Homo sapiens: one gene and its partners. The gene in region 1 interacts genetically with each later gene. Each region holds a gene or a part of one and is shown in the gene's direction. Other genes may lie near its edges.

What was found. Genes that interact genetically often act in the same process or in processes that back each other up.
Region 2: changes in FBXW7 (region 1) and POLR2K are lethal when combined (synthetic lethality), as found in Homo sapiens cells (one study listed by BioGRID).
Region 3: changes in FBXW7 (region 1) and SPAG11B are lethal when combined (synthetic lethality), as found in Homo sapiens cells (one study listed by BioGRID).

What each region holds. Positions count from the first base shown.
Region 1 is NC_000004.12:152,318,884-152,324,023, reverse strand, and holds the end of FBXW7 (F-box/WD repeat-containing protein 7), read left to right. Parts: intron 1-874; coding exon 875-1,143; 3' UTR 1,144-3,480; downstream 3,481-5,140. UniProt on the Homo sapiens protein: Substrate recognition component of a SCF (SKP1-CUL1-F-box protein) E3 ubiquitin-protein ligase complex which mediates the ubiquitination and subsequent proteasomal degradation of target proteins.
Region 2 is NC_000008.11:100,146,006-100,154,955, forward strand, and holds POLR2K (DNA-directed RNA polymerases I, II, and III subunit RPABC4), read left to right. Parts: upstream 1-4,630; 5' UTR 4,631-4,704; intron 4,705-5,341; 5' UTR 5,342-5,350; coding exon 5,351-5,411; intron 5,412-5,818; coding exon 5,819-5,911; intron 5,912-7,288; coding exon 7,289-7,311; 3' UTR 7,312-7,998; downstream 7,999-8,950. UniProt on the Homo sapiens protein: DNA-dependent RNA polymerase catalyzes the transcription of DNA into RNA using the four ribonucleoside triphosphates as substrates.
Region 3 is NC_000008.11:7,459,223-7,468,192, reverse strand, and holds the start of SPAG11B (sperm-associated antigen 11B isoform D preproprotein), read left to right. Parts: upstream 1-4,650; 5' UTR 4,651-4,689; coding exon 4,690-4,750; intron 4,751-5,333; coding exon 5,334-5,486; intron 5,487-6,658; coding exon of another isoform or gene 6,659-6,786; exon of another isoform or gene 6,787-6,928; intron 6,929-8,970. UniProt on the Homo sapiens protein: Has antimicrobial activity against E.coli. Plays a role in the defense response in the male reproductive tract, contributing to sperm maturation, storage and protection.

The sequences.
Region 1 (5,140 bases):
CTTGAGGAAATGTTTTAAACTGTGTTTTTAATATGTAATATAAAATTGTTTAATCACTTCCTGCATGTTCAATTGACTCTACTTAACCTTTAAGAACAGTGAGAAGAAAGATCTTGGCTATATCATAGAAGCAACGTACTCATTATATTTTTTGATTGACCATTGCATTTTGAATTTGTAGTCCAATTTTAAAGGGCTACCTTATTGAAAAAAACAACAGCATCCTTGATAGAAAATTTATTTGGCCTCCACTTAGTCACGTGCTTAACTGGAATGGAGAGGAATAATAGTGCCTACTAAAGTAGAGAAAGAAACAAGTGAAAATCACTAATATTAGATGAGGTACAGCAGTGCCTCATGATTAACTTTTTCTATTTGTTATAGCCCTTAGAAAGTGTTTTTTTCAGTGGGGCCATCTGATAGGCAACATTGCAGCTTTTTACTCATTGGTTTTGTCTCTCCTCAGAGTTTTGGAATAGTGACTGTTCAGCTTTGAGTGGTTCATGGTGGTGGGGTAATAGATCTCTTAGTGCTCATTTGTCCATCAGCAGAAGGTATGAAGTTGCACTATCTACATCCTCACCAAGGAATGCTGTCGTTCACACAGCCAGAAAATAAGATGTTTGTCTGGTAGCTAACCAAGCTTCTTGGAAGACAGACCTCTTGAAAGTTAATGTTTCAGTTACAAATCACTACCAGATTTTCTTACATCCATGCTGATCCTAAAATACTGAGGACATGGGTTTCTAAATATGTATCATTTCAAATGTTGCATTTATTGTATGTTCTAAAGTAGAAGTCTACAAATTATAATGTAACTAACTCATAGCCATTATTTCTAACCAGTAATTAAATTCTTTTGGTTTTTGTCTAGGTCCCAACAAGCATCAGAGTGCTGTGACCTGTTTACAGTTCAACAAGAACTTTGTAATTACCAGCTCAGATGATGGAACTGTAAAACTATGGGACTTGAAAACGGGTGAATTTATTCGAAACCTAGTCACATTGGAGAGTGGGGGGAGTGGGGGAGTTGTGTGGCGGATCAGAGCCTCAAACACAAAGCTGGTGTGTGCAGTTGGGAGTCGGAATGGGACTGAAGAAACCAAGCTGCTGGTGCTGGACTTTGATGTGGACATGAAGTGAAGAGCAGAAAAGATGAATTTGTCCAATTGTGTAGACGATATACTCCCTGCCCTTCCCCCTGCAAAAAGAAAAAAAGAAAAGAAAAAGAAAAAAATCCCTTGTTCTCAGTGGTGCAGGATGTTGGCTTGGGGCAACAGATTGAAAAGACCTACAGACTAAGAAGGAAAAGAAGAAGAGATGACAAACCATAACTGACAAGAGAGGCGTCTGCTGTCTCATCACATAAAAGGCTTCACTTTTGACTGAGGGCAGCTTTGCAAAATGAGACTTTCTAAATCAAACCAGGTGCAATTATTTCTTTATTTTCTTCTCCAGTGGTCATTGGGCAGTGTTAATGCTGAAACATCATTACAGATTCTGCTAGCCTGTTCTTTTACCACTGACAGCTAGACACCTAGAAAGGAACTGCAATAATATCAAAACAAGTACTGGTTGACTTTCTAATTAGAGAGCATCTGCAACAAAAAGTCATTTTTCTGGAGTGGAAAAGCTTAAAAAAATTACTGTGAATTGTTTTTGTACAGTTATCATGAAAAGCTTTTTTTTTTTTTTTTTTGCCAACCATTGCCAATGTCAATCAATCACAGTATTAGCCTCTGTTAATCTATTTACTGTTGCTTCCATATACATTCTTCAATGCATATGTTGCTCAAAGGTGGCAAGTTGTCCTGGGTTCTGTGAGTCCTGAGATGGATTTAATTCTTGATGCTGGTGCTAGAAGTAGGTCTTCAAATATGGGATTGTTGTCCCAACCCTGTACTGTACTCCCAGTGGCCAAACTTATTTATGCTGCTAAATGAAAGAAAGAAAAAAGCAAATTATTTTTTTTTATTTTTTTTCTGCTGTGACGTTTTAGTCCCAGACTGAATTCCAAATTTGCTCTAGTTTGGTTATGGAAAAAAGACTTTTTGCCACTGAAACTTGAGCCATCTGTGCCTCTAAGAGGCTGAGAATGGAAGAGTTTCAGATAATAAAGAGTGAAGTTTGCCTGCAAGTAAAGAATTGAGAGTGTGTGCAAAGCTTATTTTCTTTTATCTGGGCAAAAATTAAAACACATTCCTTGGAACAGAGCTATTACTTGCCTGTTCTGTGGAGAAACTTTTCTTTTTGAGGGCTGTGGTGAATGGATGAACGTACATCGTAAAACTGACAAAATATTTTAAAAATATATAAAACACAAAATTAAAATAAAGTTGCTGGTCAGTCTTAGTGTTTTACAGTATTTGGGAAAACAACTGTTACAGTTTTATTGCTCTGAGTAACTGACAAAGCAGAAACTATTCAGTTTTTGTAGTAAAGGCGTCACATGCAAACAAACAAAATGAATGAAACAGTCAAATGGTTTGCCTCATTCTCCAAGAGCCACAACTCAAGCTGAACTGTGAAAGTGGTTTAACACTGTATCCTAGGCGATCTTTTTTCCTCCTTCTGTTTATTTTTTTGTTTGTTTTATTTATAGTCTGATTTAAAACAATCAGATTCAAGTTGGTTAATTTTAGTTATGTAACAACCTGACATGATGGAGGAAAACAACCTTTAAAGGGATTGTGTCTATGGTTTGATTCACTTAGAAATTTTATTTTCTTATAACTTAAGTGCAATAAAATGTGTTTTTTCATGTTAGTATGCCTGTTTCTTCCACTGAAGTAATAATCCTTCATTATAAGTATTTAGGATTTGTCTATAATATTTAAATAAGCAAAATCTTGGTTTCTTTGCATCCTGCTGTGTGACATAGAAATCAATACTTCAAGCCTGTTTTATACCGCGAAAGTAAGGATAATGTGCTGCAACTGCAAATTTTATTTCTCTCCTAGACTATGAAGGAGGACACTCCACTGTGCTCATCTCTGTAGATTGCATTGGGGTGTATAAATATGAAATCTGGTTCCCTCAAAGAATCCACAAAACTTTTGTGATAATTACAACTAGAAGCCTTATAAATAACAAATTCATTTTGAAATTTTGACCACATATTAAGTGCTTACCCTCGATACTTTCTGTTCATTCTCTCTTAAGCTCCCACTATCCCTGAGAAGTAGGCACTATTATCTCCCATCTTAAAGACGAGCAAAAATCTGCAGCTGAGACTGGTTAGGCAATTTGTCAAATCATAGAACTAGCGGAATGCCAGAACTCAAACCCATATTTCCAAAGACTAAATACATGCTGCTCTTTAAGAAAGTTTGACAGACTAAAGCAAGGTTTGAGAGGGAAATAAGCCATTTTTCTGGTACTTTCTGACTGTTCTGTAGCCGTTTTGTTCAACAAATCTAAATTTTATAAAATCTAAATTTTATGATGTAAGGGGAAAAAATAAAGTTGTTTTTGAAACTAGTTCTAAATATATTTAGTATCTCAAATAGCAGGAGATATATATATATATATATATATATACACACACATATATATATACACACATCCAGTAATCTCAACTAACCAGGCCGTAGATGAAAATATAAAAGCTACTGAAAATGGACTCCCCTTTTTCTCATAGTCATAAAGTATGTGTTCTTTACTCATAGGGCAAATCCTGGGCCTCATTCTCCCAAAGCTACTAAATCAGAACACCTGGGAGTGTGACCCAAGAACCTGCATTTAAACTAGCTCACCAGGTGAGTTGTGGATACTAAAGTTTCAGAACCATTGCTTTAGATACCATTCCTGTACATTTGGTTATTTGGTTTATTAGTCCACAGCAAATTACAGACACAAAAATAGCAAGGAAAAGTGACAGGGTAAAGGAAAAAAACAAAAAACTACCTGGTTGAATGCAAGGCAAAAATCCTACTAGGCCGTGAAGTGCAGGGTCTTTAGAGTAAACCACGTTACTGCCCAAACCGTGACTACTGTTCACATTGATGACTGTGAATTGTCAAGAAAAAGTTGTAATTCTATTTGATAGTTCTTGAAACTGCTTGATTTTTCATAAGAGCATATAAATGAGGCTTAACTAGAATATAATTGAAGAGAAACATCCATTTTTAGAACTTTAGAGAATAGAATGAGTTCACAGGCTTTGCAGACAAATAGCCCTGAATTCATCTCAGTTCTAGTATGGTCTAGTTACTGGGACCTTTATCATGTTTCTTGACCTCGTGTTTCCTCATTTAAGATGTAGAGGATACCCATCTCCTAAGGTTATTATAAAGATTAGGTGAAACGTAAAGCACATTGCATACCGATGGCATTTAGAGCTCAGTAAATGGTAGCTTCTATTAAAAATTTTAAGTAAATAGACCCAGATAACTTTCTATATTAGAGAATTGAATGTATTTGTTACTCAGATTATGTAATAAAAATAGCATACACATACACACGTGTGCACACACACACACAGCAGTCCATTCTTTTACGTGGAGCCATCTAGATTCTCATTTGAGTTTTACAGAAACCTTGTGAGACAGACTGATATTGAGCACCTAACAGTGGTTTTGTATATACAGTCATCCTTCAGTATTTGGGCGGGATTGGTTTTAGGATCTCCCCAACCTCACCCCCATGGATATCAAAATTCATGGATGCTCAAGTCACTGATATAAAATGGCATAGTATTTGCATGTAACATATACAAGCCCTCCCGTATGCTTTAAATCATACCTAGATTACTTATAATACCTAAGACAATGTAAATGCTATGTAAATAGTTATTATACTGTATTGTTTAGGGAATCATGACAAGGGAAAAAGTCTGTACATGTTCGATACAGACATAGCCACCCTTTTCAAATATTTTTGATTCTCGTTTGGTTAGATCTGTGGATGCAGAACCCACAAATAATGGAGGGATGACTGTGTTTAGGTGTTCATTAAACATCATTTTATGAATAAATGAATAATCTTTATTACAATAAATCTTTGCTTGAAGGGAAAATGTTAGCATCCTTCTACAGGAATCAAAGTATAATTGTTGTAAAAAGGTCACTAAGAAAACTCCATTTTGTGGCCTTTTTAATGAAAAACTTTACCACCTCATGTAACTGTACATTTTAAAATC
Region 2 (8,950 bases), on another chromosome or scaffold:
TCTCCCCATTCCCACTTTGGGAAGCATTACCGTATTTAGGAATGCTAACGTGGCCTACAGTGGGATGCCATTAGAAATCATGTATGAGAATGTTCCCTTGGAAATGATTCTCCAAACTGTCAAGTGCAAAAAGCAAGTTACAAACTGACCCCTTTTAGGTTAAAAATATGGATATACACAGGATGAGGTCTGAAAGGTATGAATAACTTGGATACGGTAAATTTGTACAGGATTATGTTTGCTTTTTAGTTCTTTTTATCTGTGTTTTCTTCTCATGTTTCAACAATGAATATATACAGATTTTGTGATAAAAAAGCTGAGCCGGGCCTGGTGGCTCACATCTGTAATCCCAGCACAGAGGTGGGAGGATCACTTGAGCCAAGGAATTTGAGACCAGCCTGGGCAACATAGTGAGACCCCCATCTCAAAAAAAAGATTTTTAAAAAATCTATTCATAAAAACCAGAGTGAAATGTGTTCATTGTTTACAAACATCCATTTTTGGGCATCATGAACTCCCAAGTACCCTCAAAGCCAAATAAATTTTTTAAACCCTAATTTTTTCATTCAATAAATATTTACTGGGCGTCTATTATATGCCAGGGACACTCCTGCTGCTCTTGGCAGCTTCTTCCTAGTCTCCTTTTTCTGGCTTCTTTTCCTTGGCCTACTCCCTAAATGAGAGGTCCTACCTCAGCATTTTTATTAGTTTATCATCCCATGCTTATGTAATTCTTATTCAGAACTTCAACCATCACTTTTAAGCCAATAACAGGCACTACCACCACTCTTCTCTGACTGGACATTTCTCCAACTGGATGTCCCTCAGTCATCCAAAACCAAACTCACTAAAATTATTATGAGACAGGGTCTCGCTCTGTCACGCACGCTGGAGTGCCGTGGTGCAATCTTGGCTCACTGCAACCTCCACCTCCCAGGTTCAAACGATTCTCCTGCCTCAGCCTCCCGAGTAGCTGGGATGACAGGCACCCGCCACCACGCCTAGCTAATTTTTGTATTTTCAGTAGAGACGGAGTTTTGCCAGGTTGGCCAGGCTGGTCTCGAACTCCTGACCTCAGGTGATCCACCTGCCTCAGCCTCCCAAAGTGCTGAGATTACAGGCATGAGCCACTGTGCCCGTCCACTAACAGTTATTAAATTCCAACTATGTGCCAATTACTGTGCTAGGTACTGGGAATACAGAGCTGACACAGCCACAGTTACTGCTGTTAAGGAGCTCATTGGTATAGAGCAAGTGCTGTAACAGAGGAACAGTAGCAGCACAAAGGAAAGAAGAACCAGCTAACTCTACTGGAGAACAGAGTGCATGAGATAGATTTTGATGTACAAGTGGCAATTTAAAAGGCAGACAGCAGGAAATTCCAAACTTAAAATGTATAAGGGCAGGAAAATTTCAAACTCAAAACAAAATGTGCAAGAGCAGTTGGGCACATGGAGAAGCTGCAAATAATTTGTTATAGGCAGAAACTAAGAGTTGTTAGAGGAAAGGATTAGAGAAAATTCCTGAGAAGTGAAGAAGCTAAGTCTTGGGAAGTTCTGGTTGCACCTTCAGAGTTTGAAGAGCATTTTAGAAAGTCCACTCTGGTGGCAGAATGGAGGACAGAATGAAGAGAGGCAAGGGTGGCTGCTAGGAGACCAGTAGGAAGCTACTGCATTTCTCCAGAAGGCAGTGGGGGGTGGAGCAGAACCAAGATGTGACATGTTCAGTTGGCAGAATCAACTGCATGGGGCAAGGAGTGAGGGAATGAAGAGTATAGGCTTGGGAGAAAATAAGATGCATTTAGTGTGAGGTTGTTAAGTTTGAGGTACCTGTAGGACTGTAAAGAATTAATGAATTACACATTCTTCAAGACAGCACCTCTCTGAAGCCTACCCCCACACTCCCTGGTAGAGTGAATAGTACCCTCTCTAGCTCTTCAAACAAATCTCTATTACAGCCATTTTACCCTTTCCTGCCCCACATTTGCAATTCTCCTGCAGAATTCTACTGAATTTTCTCTGTGTAGTTTACTACCTTCTAAAATCCCATATTATCTACTCATTTTTGTTTAATGTCTGCTCCCCATCTCCATCCCAATGTAAACAGGGCAGGGAATTTTGCCAATGGTTAAGTAGAATCCACATAACCCCAAAACCATTTAAACATTGCCCTTTTCTTTTTTCTCCAGTTAATTTATTTTTCTTGAGATATTTTATTATGTCTGAGGAGTGAAAGACTATATCATATCTCCTTTATATTGTTCAAGGAAGAATCATTGTCACCTCTCCCCACCTAAAAACGGGCAAAAAGACACCTAGTTATATGTAGTTTGCCTGAGCTTTACTTACATACTCCAGATTGAAGCCACTGAGCTGTAATTTCATATTCTTTACAGTCTTTTGCCTTTTTGCTTCCCTTTTTTTTGAGACAGAGTCTCACTTTGTCACCCAAGCTGAAGTGAAGTGGGGCAATTTCAGCTCACTGCAACCTTCGCCTCCCGGGTTCAAGCGATTCTTGCACCTCAGCCTTCCAAGTAGCTGAGATTACAGGTGCATGCCACCATGTCTGGCTAATTTTTTGTATTTTTAGTAGAGACGGGGTTTCATCATGTTAGCCAGGATGGTCTTGAACTCCTGACCTCAAGCAATCTGCCCGCCTCAGCCTCCCAAAATGCTGGGATTACAGGCGTGAGCCACGGTGCCCAGCCCTTTGCTTTCCTTTCTTGCATTGGGTGTCATCCCATCACTAATTTCAGAACTCTAAAACCCACCTGCTTGCCACAAAATCTGATGCTTCTTTTTGGGACCATCCAATAAAACGTAATGGGAGATTTCCCAAATTACCATGATATTCAAGCTATCTGGATATATTTAAGTGAATATAATCAAGGAAAAAGGAAAGACAGAGATTCAGGGAAAAAATAGCAACTTGCATCTCCATAACCTTCTTAATAAAGAGTTAAAAGCATTGTTTTCCAGGATGGCAAGACAACTACCCCCATTAAAACAGAGCAATGCAATGATGTCTGGCATGTAGTACATGCTCAGAAAAAGTTAATGCTATCATTGATAATAGTGTAGCTTACACTGACCAAACTCCCAAGTGATCCTAGAACTACCAGTCTCTGTTGATAGGAAAGAGCGTGTTGGATTGGGAACTAGCACCAACATGAATTCTTGTTGAAATTCTGGATCTTCTTGCTATGACTTGTCATTACTTTGCCCTTTTGTAGGGCCCCAGGACCCATTTGTATTCTACATATGTTGATCCATTCTGATCTCCATAAATTGTTCTGCACGAGAATTATCTTGATATTTCAACTGGAGAGTTAATATACAAGAGAGCTTGTAAATATGAAAGTTTGACTTTTGGGATCACTCTGTCATCTTTCGCTTAGGATAACAATGGTTCCATCTAATAGTTCTTACAGGGAAGCCTATTGTGCCTCTTGTATTAGATCACCTCTTTGGTTAAGAGGAGAGGTACTTTGTAACAGGGCTAATGGTTAAAATATTTATGCTCTGTTAGCCTGTCTGTGAAGAAAGAAGCCAGGAACTGCTGCGTTTTCCTGAAGGGTTTTTAAATGGCATCTTCCTGGAAAGATCAACTTAAATCTCTCAAGCTGGTCTGGGGAGATGCAACAGAAGGAGTTTGAACTTCTGGAAGTGAAAGGTGAAGCTCAAAGTTCTCAGATTTCTGGATGGAGGGCCCGAAAGGAGTATAACCTGCTTAATAAAATATCAGACATAGTGCGTGTTGGGAGAAAGAACGCCTACTTCTTTCACTAACTTTAAAATAGTTATTAACAATTAAGTTATTTTTAAATTTTTTAAAATAGCTTCATTTTCTTCACCCTACTAAGTAAAATATCTTCTGGAAAAAAAGGAAACAAATGTAAACGTTCTGAACCCAACTGATCCATCATACTGAAATTCTGATACTTGAAAGAACGCACCTCCACTGAGCAGGGCGTTTTGTTCTTCTATGGTGGAATACATAGAACGGAGGGCGGGTGAGTAGACAGCGAAAGCTACCAAAATCTCTTAGATTTAAGAGGGAGTTGTTCATGTAGCTACCGTCACACTAACCTTTGCTTTAAAACAAGTAAACGGATTGGGCGAGGGATGTGACAGTAGCCTATCAGAGAAGGGGCCAGAAAGCAAAAACAAAATCAAGAGAAAGGTAGGAGGCAGCTGCCCCACTGCCCCAGTACAGATATCAAACAATTTTTAAAAACAATCTGGAAAAGTGTTTTTCTACGTGAAAATCATTGGTGTAGTCGATTCTTCTATGTTCGTCCGAGTAACGGCTATCCTAGTACTTCTCGGACACTGTCATCTCGGTTTTTCTTCTAACCCTCTACCCTTCTGGAAAAGTGTTACTTTGTACCACTACATTAGTCAGAAACACACACCGCCTTGTACTTGCATAACTGTTAAAATGCTCTGCTTTCCTGCAAAATTAAAATAGCTGGGGACCAGGCACTTAAACCCGTAGAATCTAATAGACAGAAAGCCCCTGCTTTACCGCCTTTGCGCCATCCGGGTTGTCTGGCCACGCCTGGGGCGGAAGGGGCGGGGAGTAAGAGAGAGAGAAAGAGAGACAGCACTGTGCGTCATGTACCAGCGCCGGAAGTTGGTCTCGACACCTGGACTAGCCGGGTTGTATTTGGAAACGCGGAGTGAGTTTTTCCGTGCTGTGTAGGTAAGCGAATTGGCGGGTTGGGGTTTGTGGTGGATATTTGGGCCAAAACTGGAAAGACACTTGGGGTAAAAAGGTCCGGTATGGGGGTAGAGTTGAGAGTGGCTGGGGATACGGTCCATGCTATCGCTCTTTTCCCTATTTTCTTTTAGTTTAGATGTTTAGCCAGTAGGAGTTATTTCATTGTTCTTCCCTCGGTGAGCCTGTTCCCCTGTTGAGGGATATAATTTTTTTTGGCTAACTTCTGCTAGAGTTTGGGAAAATAGAACTTGTGTTAAACGAGAACGCGAGCTTTACAGTCAGATCTGTATCCCTTTGACTTTTAGTAGCTGAGTGATCCTGCGGAAATTAACATGTCTAAGTATCGGTTGCGTCCTCTGTAAAACAAGAGTGATGTCTCCTAGGATTGTTATGAAGATTATAATGGCCTAACACGTATGAAGTAGTTATTATGTCCAGTTTGGGGTAAACGCTCAATACTTGTGTGTATGCGTTTCGTCCTTGAGACCTAACCCATAGGATTTGGGGAAAGGAACAGATTAGGAATTGGATCTTTGTAGCTTTTCCTGAGAAAAATGGGCCCGGATGGACTTGTGAGAAGCCCTTTTGAGATATTCAGTATTTGAGTCTGTGATTTCAGGGGCTAACAATGGACACCCAGAAGGACGTTCAACCTCCAAAGCAGCAACCAATGATATATATCTGTGGAGGTAAGAGTAGCACTTACCTAAAGTAAGAATATTTTATTTAAGTTTTTTTGAAATTGTTACATTTATTCTTTGCTTAAATGAGTTACTGGTCTTCAGAGTTATAAAGTAGAACACTTTAGCAACCATAAAAAAAATCGTTGAGGTCAGTAGACCTGGGTTCGTCCTTGGTCTTCTGTTTACTAACAGAAAAAAACAAAGCTCGTTGAGATTTCATTCTCTCTCCTGGAAATATGCATGGCCTACAACCTTTTTCTTTCCTATTTAATATATTTAATAAAAGCAGCAGACCCTTGAGATTGAGTATATTTTAGTGTTTTGGATTGCCTTAGGTAAATAATACATTTAAGATAATTTGTCTGTAATATTTTCCTCTTAGGCATTGAGTAAATTTTTTTTTTTAATTCTAGAGTGTCACACAGAAAATGAAATAAAATCTAGGGATCCAATCAGATGCAGAGAATGTGGATACAGAATAATGTACAAGAAAAGGACTAAAAGATGTATCCTTTTAACGATGCTTTCTAAATATGAGTTAGGAGGAAATGAATAATGCTGGGGTTGATAAAGATTAATTTCTGGTTAAAATGATAACTTTCTGGATTACAGTACTTAAAAAACAAACATGATTAGCATTTTCATGGACCAATGCATAGGCTCTAAATAATCTAAATAATGCTAGTTGATTTTGGTTCTCATAAATTTATTTTTTAGGGATTCTGTGCAGTCAAGCTTGAGGATAGGGATACATTCTGAGAATTGTGTCCTTAAGCAATTTCATCATTCCTACAGAAACCTAGACCGTATATCCTACTATACATACACATCTAGGCTATATGGTATAGCTTATTGCTGCTAGGCTACACACCTGTACAGCATGCTATTGTACTGAATAGACAATTGTAACACAATGTTTTTGTATATCTGAACATAGAAAAGGTACAGCAAAAATAGAGTATAATCTTATGCGACCACTGTTTATATGTGCTCCATCTTTGACCAAAACGTCATTATGGGTGCATGACTACATTTATATAAGTATTCATTCTTGAGCTTCAGTTTATGGACAAGCTAAAGTTCACGAGGAGAAATACAAATATTGTGTATACTACCTAATGGAAAAAGTTGGGCATACAAATTGTTCAAATACTGAGAGTAGGCCCAGCATGGTTGCTCACACCTATAATCCCAGCACTTTGGGAGGCTGCAGGAGTTCAAGACCAGCCTGGGCAACATAGTGTGACCCCCATGTGGAAAAATAAAATACAGAGTAAATTGTTATGATACAACTAACACACATTGTAAATCGACGGATTATCCGCTTTAACATTACTTTAGTGTTTTTTTTTGTTTGTTTTTTGTTTTTTTTTGAGACGGAGTCTCGCTCTGTCACCCAGGCTGGTGTGCAGTGACGCAATCTCGGCTCACATTGCAAGCTCTGCCTTCCGGGTTCATGGCATTCTCCTGCCTCAGCCTCCTGAGTAGCTGGGACTACAGGCACCCGCCACCATGCCCGGCTAATTTTTTTTATTTTTTAGTAAAGATGGGGTTTCACCATGTTAGCCAGGATGGTCTCGATCTCCTGACCTCGTGATCCGCCCACCTCAGCCTCCCAAAGTACTGGGATTACAGGCGTGAGCCACTGCGCCTGGCCTGCTTTAGTGTTTTTTGATACATTTTATGGAAAAGGTGGTAATAAAAATTGAAAGTGTTTTTAGTTTATTTAAAAACCAGTTGTCATAGTAAATAGTGAATTCCATTCTTTTTTGCATTTTAAGTTAAATAACAAACCAGCTTATTGCAAAGAGAAAGTGACTTTGAAACCTTCAGTCTTAATAATGTTTAAGTACCGTTTTTGTCCTTAACTCAAATTAATACAGTGGTCGTTTTTGATGCTCGATGAATGCTGGGAATTCAGAGGAATGTCTTCACTTATACTTGGATTTGCTCTCTTCCCATTTCTGATTGTTGTATAGCTTTCGATTTTGCTTACAGTAGTTCCCCCTTATCTTCGGGAGATACATTCCAAGGCCCCCAGTGAACTCCTGAAACCTCAAACAGTACCAAACCTTTATACACTGTTTTTTCCATATATATATACCTATGATAAAGTATAATGTATAAATTAAGCATAGCAAGAGATTAATAATAATGTAATAGAACAATGATAACATACTATAATAAAAGTTATGTGAATGTGGTTGGTCTCTCTTGCTTTCAAAATATCTTCTTGTACAGTACTCACCTATTTTAGAATGTGGTTGACTACAGGTAACCAAAACCACAGAAAGGGAAACTTTGGATGAGGGGGGCACTACTGTACTTAGGAATACAACTATATACATATGATTTTATTTTTAAGACCATATTATATTTGGGTATCTACTAATATTTTGTATAAAGCAATTTTTTGTTCCATTACGTGACTTTTTGTTTTATTGTATATGTAATTTAACACACAATAAAGGGTAAAGTTGCTTCCCCAAACCACACTTTTAATCAAAACCTAGAATCATCTGCAGTCCTTGTTAAAAATGCAGGTTTCTAGAACCCTCTGAAGTTCTGATTAAATAAATTTATTGCAAACCACTGTCCTGTGTCACTGTGTCATTTGATATGAAGTATACCATTGTGCTTGGTGTCAGTATGCATATGTCATCTTGAGTTCAGTTTTTCATTTATTACTAGGTATAGGCCTTTCTGTATTTTCATATAATGCTTGGTTCTCTTTTAAATCTCAGAATAATGAAGGGAAACTTTAATTGTTTTCTGTAAGGCAAAATCAACCCCAAGCAAAGTGAATGAAGCAGGCTGTTAAGCCAAGTGCAGTTTCCAAGGTGTAATCACTCATTAAGGTCAACAGTTCTGCTTTTAGGATATAAAAAGAACAGGCAGTGACTCGGGAGGCTGAGATGGGAGGATCACTTGAACCCAAGAGTTTGAGGCTGCAGTGAGCCATAATCATGCTGCTGCACTCCAGCCTGATGGACAGTGCAACACCCTGAGTCAAGGGCTGGGGAGGGGAGCGTTGGTTTACACTGAATTATTGGATAAATGTTTAAGTCTTCAGCCTTGATCTTTGGGATGTAGAATTAATGGTCACACTTATACGCTATTCTGTTCAAGGATTCCATGGTTGTGGAATGTCATGTTGGCCAGCCTGATGTGCATTTTAAAGATTAGATGTATTCCAACTTTATTAATAGTTATGTCTGTCTTTGACATTCAAAATATTGTCCATAATACTTTGTTAAAAAAAACCCTGCATTTTTACCACCATCTTCATATATTAAATTCTATAAATTTATTACATGCTATATGAAATACTTCCATGCTCAGATTTTTGTTTTGTTTTGTTTTTTTAAGACCGGGTCTCCCTCTGTTGTCCAGACTGGAGTGCAGTGGCATGATCATAGCTCACTACAGCCTCCATCTCCCAGGCTTACACAATCTTCTCACCTCAGCTTCCTGAATAGCTGGGACTGCAAGCACACACCACCATGCTGGCTGATTATTTTGATTTTTAGTAGAGATGAAGTCTC
Region 3 (8,970 bases), on another chromosome or scaffold:
CTAAAGAGGCTGGATTCTGAAACAGCGCCCCCTCCCGCCCTCAGGTGTAATTCACATAGTCATATTAATGAACTGCTATCCTCAGCACTTAACGACATCACAAAGTCGCACTACTTTAATTTCAGGGCTTTACAGTAAAAGAACAAAGATAGATTGTTCTATTTTATTGTTTCCAGAATTGGCAGGAAATATTTAATAATTTGTACCTGATGCACTACAAACACAATCAGAAACCCAATAACATTGCTACTTATCTTCTATCTCCAAAGGATGGATACAGATCTGAAGTCTGTAGTTCATAATGAATGATCAGTAACCCTTTGAAATGTGCCTAATGAAAATCAACAGAAGGAAGGATTGTTTGGATATTTTTCACTTTTTAATTTATGCGTTTTTTATTATTTGAAGTTGAGAGAGAGAGACAGAGATTGACAGAGAAAATCTCTGGGTGAGCAAATCACCACCCAGGTCCTTATTTAAATATCCAAAAGAGCAGAACTTGAAATTTTCAACGTGCAGGAGTTAAGGTTTTCCACACTGGCATATTCTCTTTCTTGCCTCCCAAGAGACATCCCATTAAATCCTGGAAAATATGACTGTGTAAAGGGGAAACATATTGCAGCCAAGTCTGTGCTCAGAAGTTGCTATAGAATCAACTTTCTCTTGCATTACCACATGACCCAAAGAAAATTAGCCTGGAAGAGTCTCACAGGTGAGTGAAGCAGAGATTCCTATGTAGATTTTCTTATCCCTGAATTTTAGATTGTGATATGTCCACAAGGACTGCTGGGACCTCAGTTTCATAGGCACAGAGGGCCCTGTGGGTAAAAATAGGTGGGGTCCTGAGTCTTCCCAACATGACAAAGTCAAAGACAGACACATGGTGAGTGGTAGAGCTGCCTTTGTGGCTGAATCCGAGAGAAAAAAATGGTCAACCTCTGAGGACTGGGAAGGGGCTGAAATGCTTTCCAGTTATGAGAAATTACACCCAAAATAATAAAAGCATCATGGCACCGTGGAGAAAAGATACTATTCCCGTGAAAAACTACATTTCTTCTTATGTCTGTGACCACCATGAACTCCTGCTCTTCCCCAAACAAATCTGTTGCCTTTCCCTTTAACTTTGAGCACCCCTTTGTTTATTTACATGGACTCCATTCTGTTAATAGTGTCTGCAGTGCATAGCCTCCTCCAGATCTTTAGTCTTTAATTAACACATATAGACACATCGCTTTTTCACTCATCCTCCATTTCCTCTTCTTAAAATATTGGTTAGGTCTCTAAGACAGTTTTCAGTTCCAAAATGTTATGATTGTTTCGTCAGAATTGCCAACCTCGGCCAGGCAGGGTGGCTCACGCCTGTAATCCCAGCACTTTGGGAGGCAGAGGCGGGAGGATCACTTGAGGTCAGGAGTTCAAGACCAGCCTGGCCAACATGGTGAAAACCCGATCTCTACTAAAAATACAAAAATTAGCTGGGCGCGGTGGCAGGCACCTGTAATCCCAGCTACTCAGGAGGCTGAGGCAGGAGAGTCGCTTGAACCCGGGAGGCGGAGGTTGCAGTGAGCTGAGATGGCGCCGCTGCACTCCAGCTTGGGCAACTATGCCAGACTCCGTCTCAAGAAAAAGAATAGGCAATCTCAACAGATTTATTTAAACTTATAACAATACCATGTTTTTATTGCCAAAACTAAATGGTGTTTATGCCTTAGCGCTCATGAAAGGATTTCCTGTGTTCTTTCATATGCTGCCTTAAGAGCATTCTTGGGATGGCTGAAATGGCTACAGATCAAATCGACTTCTGAAAACACAATTCATTTTGTGATTCTGTGCATGAAAAAGAAACAAAATACCAAAGAATATTTTTGCACAATTCTCAAAGCTACTTCTTTAACCACGATCCAAAAGCAGTTTTCTCTCCTATCATGTAATTCTTCCTGACTGCTTTTTCCAAAGAAGACTCTAATATTTGTGTCTTTTCCATATATCAGTTATTTTCCCTAGAGGGGAATCTGTGCCTCTGTTAAATGGCATTCTAGTTGGTCTTACAGACTGGTTAGCATGTTACAATCTCAGACTTAAGAATAAGAAAATCTGCATAGGAATCTTTGCTTCGCTCTTCTGTGAGTCTCCTCCAGAGAAACTTTCACTGGGTCATTTAGTAATGCAAAAGAAGAGTCTAAATTTGATTCTGCAGAGAACTTCTGATTCCAAACTGGGCTACAATAGGGTTTTCCTTCTCGCATTCATATTTTCCAGGATTTACCAGGATGCTACTTGGGAAGCAAGAAGGAGGATGTGCCGATGTGGAAAATCTTACCCCCTGCACATGTGTGCAATTTCCAATAAGATCCTTCAGGAATATGTATTTGCAGAACTTCTTATTTGACAATAAAATCTTGATCATTTTACTTTAGCCCACCTACTTAGTCCAAACGAATCAAGATACCACATACTAAGCAGCTTAAAAAAAAAAGAATATGATTTATTGATTGAATGGACCAAAAAAAACTTGAAACAATTATTAGAATATTCTATAATGGGTTCTGCCATCCTCCCCCTCAGGATGGATGTGGCTTTTAGCAAGAGAATTATTCAAAGATTTTTTTAGGACACAGAAATCTGGCAGAAGAGGACAGGAGCTGAGAGCATTGTTGTGTTAGGACAGATGTAACATTAATTGCCTTTATTACGACTTCACCAGCTTTTGCCTGTCAAAGAGCAGAACTAGGCTTTCCCGGCTGCTCTTTTTTAAGATTGTTCTTTTCAGAAGCATGGAAGAGGGGGCTTACTTTATCTCAAGACGTAGACAAAGGAAGTGAGATCTAACTATTTTTGGCTCAGTTTCTTCATTTAAATAATTTCAAATAATTCTAACGACTTCAAAGAAGATTCCGTTACCTGGGTGGTAATTACTCAAATGCTGTTATATTTTAAGTCATGATTTTGATTAATGATTCATTACTATTAATATCTGAATGGTGGAATAGGCTTGTTTTTGTTTTCTTTCCTTTTATAGAGAAGATAAAAATATATAGAAATAAGTTACCAATATACTCCAAAATTTCCATCACTGTTATAAAAGATCCACATTCCAAGTTTAAATAATTACAAATACAACTGTAAGAAGTTGCTATTGAACTAGAGTACAAAAAATACCCAGAGTATGTAGATGAGCGAATAAATCTTCATTTAGGGTTGAGGTAGAGCAGCTGTCTACCTCCTTTCTTGACTGTCTATGTTCTTCCAACATCCAATTATCAGAATTTGATGCAGTAAGTGATTAAAGAAACTTATCATGGGCCAGTTGTCACCTATCTCCGCAGTGTTGCCCTGTGCTCTTGGAATTGGAAGACTTCCTAATTCCTTAAAGTGAAAGGATGTGAATGATGCTCCTGCTCTCCCTGACCAGCACCTCATGCTTTGCAGTGGAGAATCTGTCCTGAGACCCAAAAGATAGTGGCCTCCGCATTGTGCTGCCAGGGCAGCTGCTATGTGCAACTGTCCGCAGCTGCAAACCTTCCGCCCTTTGCTGGTGCTTCAGCGGATGCCCAGGTCTCTATTGTCATTGCTGCCTCTTTCTCCATTTGCTTCCAGCTTTCTCCAGGTAGAGAGTAAGTATTTTTATTTACACAAATGACCTAAGTTGTTTTCTCTGTCTGGATTAAAATATACATGCAAATGAGACATATGAGATAAGCACTATCTTTTCCAGACATCACTGATGTTACATTGGATGCTATGTGAATACAAAACTCTTCAACCAAAGCCTTCTTCACTTTAGTTAAGTCCAGAGCAGACTGTCTGGGTTACATGCATACCTGAGCTAATGCAGCCAAGTAAGAAACACACACTTGGTTAAAATGCTTAAAAAGATGAAGGAGAAGGGAAGACAAGTCCTCTGCTTGGATATTACTAGAGGAGAAAACCCAGACTCAAACACAGATTTTTTTTTTCTTTTTTAAAAGAATTGAATTGGACCCAGTGACATCAACAGGAGGTGTCTGGGGGTAAAGAGAATGGAAAGGGGAGAGAAAAATCAAGACAACTCAAATAAGTTAAAATAGAAAGGAGGGGGGTCCAAAGTGAGGAAGGAGAAGTGGAGGGGACCAAGAAACAGGGAGAGAGACTCAGAGAGGAGAAGAAAAAGAAAAGAACATTTTGAGCAGCCTTGGAACTCTCTGTATAACTTCAGGAAGGGATAGTTTGTAAAACCAGGTCCTACCTGTTATGTTGTGTGTCTTATGCATGATTTTTTAACACTAAAATAAAAACGCTCAGCCAACAGGATAGAATCGACATGGCAGTTTATTTATGTCCCTGTTCTCATGAACATTAGGGGGCTTTTGAGAAGCGTTTGAGGACATTGGCAACTTTATGATAGTTATGTTTGTTCTGCCCCTCCATGCCTTTCATCTTTCTGTTTCTCTCTGTTCTTCCTTATTCACCAAACCCACCCAAGGCATTCAGGCGTATTATTTACTTCCTGAAATATGTGTCTCAAGTGTTTGTTCCACCAGCAGTGGGATAGTAGCGTGTCCACATTGTCCTTTGAGAATGAGAAGTCATCCTGGAGCACAGCTCTTCCCACGCTCCGGGCCCACACACCCAGCCTCACTCCATCAAAGGAGCCCCGCTGCCTGCCCACCCACCCTGGGTGCTTTCTGGCTTGCAGTGCTCTTGGCAGACATGAGGCAACGATTGCTCCCGTCCGTCACCAGCCTTCTCCTTGTGGCCCTGCTGTTTCCAGGTAAAATGGAAAGGTGACCCGGGTCTGGGTGCCAGAATCTCTCTGCAATGGTCATCTGAGGTATGGGAGTCCAGGCTGGACAGGGAGAGATGAAGTCCTTGGGGCATGTATTCCTGGTGGAGCTTTGGGTACGAGTCTCTGAACTGGGTTCATAAATGGCACTCTGAATTGGCTGATGGCACTTGCTTCCCAGGGAAGAGTGTCCCTCCCCGACTCCATTTTCTTATCCTTTTAACATTCCCCTTTCCCTTACAGAGAAGAACATTACATTTTAGGGAATCTTAACAACTGCATTAGTGACACTTGAAATAAATTCTCTGGCTGTGCTGGCTTTGAGGAGGTGCTCAGACTCACCATTCATGGCATACATTTCTTACACTTCATTCACCTTCTCTCTCTACACATAGGTGCATACAACGCATGTGCACAAACGTGCACACACACGGAACACTAGCACCCCTCCCAACTCCCCCACCCAATCACCCATGCTCACTCACCTGGTAGAGTGTAGGTGCCTCATGCTGACGGGTCTGCCAGGCGGAGGCCTCAGAGCATCCTCAGACGTGTGTTTCCACTTGCACAGGATCGTCTCAAGCCAGACATGTGAACCACTCAGCCACTGAGGCTCTCGGAGAACTCAGGGAAAGAGCCCCTGGGCAAGGCACAAACGGGTTTCAGCTGCTACGCCACGCAGTGAAACGGGACCTCTTACCACCGCGCACCCCACCTTACCAAGGTGAGTCAGGGACCAACACGTGCAACAAGTGCATCCACTGGGGAGACGTAGAGGGAACAAATAGACGGGAAGATGTCTGTGCTGGTCGGGGTGGGTGAGCAGTCATTGTTTGGGGAAGACATGGTGCGGGTGCATTGGGCTGCCCTGCCTGTCAGGGAGACCACGGGGTCTCACAGCTTCCCCTGGGGCTGGATCATTGAGGGCCTTGTGGAACGTGGGAGTATTGAGGGGCCAAAAGGCAATTTATCTGAAGCCACACCTGTAATTGCTGGCTTCCTCCAAGAACAGGTGCCAGAGGAGACACTGGTGGAAACATGGCCTCCTGCCAGGTTGCAGCCCCATGCCCTTAGCTTTGGAGGTCGTTCCCGTTCAAGGAATTTACTGAATACCTACCTACTAAGTTTCAGGTGTCCATTGAGGTCTGGGAAATGCTTCCTGAGAATGGGGGCAGAGAATAGACTGTATTGTCAGTCTACTCAGGCAAGGAGGTAGCAGGACATGGCAAGGGACAATTGAGCCCACAGCCACTCTTCTGGACTCTTCCAGAAGGGCCAGGCTTCTGGTCAGCCCCCAAACCCCTGGGCAGGACCAGCTTCAAATCCAAAAGGGCCTGGAAGAGCCTGTAGTTTCCAAGATGCTTCTTTAATGCCAAGCTGATTGCTGACCCTAAGACAGGGAGAACTAGGTTAGCAGATCAGTGGGCAAGAGCAAGAAAGACAGGAGGGTGTTGGCAAATTGCTGTGACATCCAGCAAATAAAGTCCTGCTGAATTTGATGCCTGCAGCATCCTACCCAACCTCCCATCCCTTTCTAATTGGCCCACAGTTCCAAAGGACTCATTCATCTGGATCTCCTCCCAAGGGAAGGGAAAAAGAAAACTCAATTATTACACAACAAATATAAACAGGTGCAATAGTAGGCGTGTGTTATTTAGTCTAACAGTATTCCTGTGAGACAGGATTATTCCTTCCTTTGGTTAAAGGAGATTTAGTGGGGCAGAGCTATATATCTGGAGTTGATGTTTTAGTTTGGAACTTGAAGCTATTAACTATGGAAAGCTGTTTCATATCCATGCCACCCCCACCCTGTCCCTCACGGCTCAAATGACCACTGTTTGATTCTGGAGATGGTCTTAAGAAGCTAATGTTGGATTTTTTCTTTTTTTAATGCAGAACCTGCATCAGATTTAAAAGTTGTTGACTGCAGGAGAAGTGAAGGCTTCTGCCAAGAATACTGTAATTATATGGAAACACAAGTAGGCTACTGCTCTAAAAAGAAAGACGCCTGCTGTTTACATTAAAACTGATGTTGCTGATATAGAAACAAAGCTCTGCCACTTACCTGTTCTCCGGGGCCACGTTGTCCAATCAGGTGCAGGTTTTTTGCGGAAGTGTCTGAGCAGCAGGGAGCGGAGATATTGCCACTTGTGCCAGACAGTTCAAATATTTTATTGTGGCAAGATAAATGACAAAAATGCTACCTGTGATCTTACAGAAGATGACTTAGCTTGACATGAACAGAATTTTCAAAATCACACAATTTGTGCTAGTAAATGTGGATATCATAAACTTTTATTAGAAAGAATTAAAATAATTTGTTCTTTTATTTAAAAACTATTTTTTGAATACCTACTTCTATTCTAGGTACTGTGCAATGGAGTCCATTCTATTCTAAGTACTGTGAAATGTAGTTGAGGTGTCAGGTGTGTGGTCAAACCCATTCTCCATCAGCCCCATCATCTCCTACCTGCAGGCCAGTTCGAAGCCCTGTTCTCTAGCAGCAGCTGAGAGAGTGTGCAGGCAAATGCCTTCTGGGGAGATACTGAGAGCTGGGAGTTACTGCCTGTTCTCTTTGTGCTAAACCTGGAAGAATACCCTCTGGAAGTCCTCTTGTGCCCCTTTAAAACTACCCATTTGTTCTCTGTGGCCTTAGAAGACACAAAATGCAGAGACCCATTTATAACCCGATGGTGCTGTGCAATTCCAGGCTTTTGGTGTCCTGAACAAAGAACTGGATGTGATACTCAGACAGCAAAGCAAGCAGCAAAAGTGTGTGAAGCGCAGTATTACATTCCCGGAGAGGGGAGAGTGGGCTGACTTCTGCCAAATGAGATTAGCATGGCTTCGGTGTACCTTGGGTCTTTTTATGTGTTTTTTCCCCTTCTCTTCGCAAGGCTGCCTGATCTTTTGCCGGTGCCTGCCTTTTGATAGATAGGTGTGTTGCTTAGTTACTTTAGCCTGTGCGGGCTTGTGAATTGTCTCCATCCCATAATTTTAACTACATGCGTGATAGGTAGTCCATATGCATGAGCTTTAATGAGCTGATTATCATACAGCATCCTGTTAAGGATACTTTTTCTCTTTAATGCGCATGCCTATCTCTGAAGAGCTGCCCCTTCCTGGTTTGATCTGGATCTTGCTGGCCATGGGGTCCTTGCTCTCTTCTTTATCTCACTTTTTCTTTTGGCTGCTTCACTTCTGCCTTTTATCTTGCTTCTTGCTCACCCACCCCTTCACCTTGCTTCTGTTTCTGCTTTTATTCACTCTATCCTTTATCCAACTTCCAATTTCCTCTGCAATTCTCCTGCCTCACATTAACTTCTAGAGATAAGTGATTTAGGAGCCAGTCCCCCAGGTGGCAGCTATAAAACTGTGCTTGAAGTATTCTCCTTCAAGGGAGAAGCTGGAGACCTGGATTTCTTGCTGGAGCTAGTCGAGAGGAGCAGGTGCAGTGCCTACCTATACCTCTGTTCAGGCTCCCACAGGTCTACTGTTCACCCTGCCCCTTTGGCTCCCAGATACAGACCCAGAAGTCAACCCTCAGGCAGCAGATGGGAAAATGGGTAGATAAACCCCTTGCAGGTAGAAACCGGGAGGTGGGCATTTACCTGCCTGCTCTGGCCTGAGCCCAGGGAGAGAGCTGCCAAAAGTGCTTGCAAATCTGTGTCCCACCATCTCTTTGGTGTCTGTGGTTTAGGGAGACCTGCAGATGCCCAGCTCTATCAACCCTGAGCTGGGTGATTTAGGAGCCAAACCCCTGGGTGGGAAGCATAAAGGTCAGGGTACTATATGTGTGGTCCAAACCCTTCACTCCTCAGGGAGAAGCTAGGAGTTGGGACTTCCTTACCAATTAATTGTAAGGTGTTATGTCTGGGATAGGGATTGTGCGGGGAGTGTGTCTCAGCTCTTCCCACCTGTTTTCACATGAATATTTTCTCAGTTGCTTGATGTGTAGTAGTCTTTCAATTAGTCCATGGTTTTCTCTCAGAAAGAACCGATCTGTGTGTTGATATTTCTTTGGTATATCCGTGGAAGGAAGGAAAGGCTGGAGCCTCTTAGTCCACCATCTTGCAGATATCAGTCTGGCACACCCTTGATTACTGTGTAGTTGAGCGTTTTTTCTTTTGTTTATTGATCATTTTTTCTCTTCTGTAAAATTTAATAGTTTTACTGGGTTACTACTTTATTCTCTTTTTTTTTTTTTT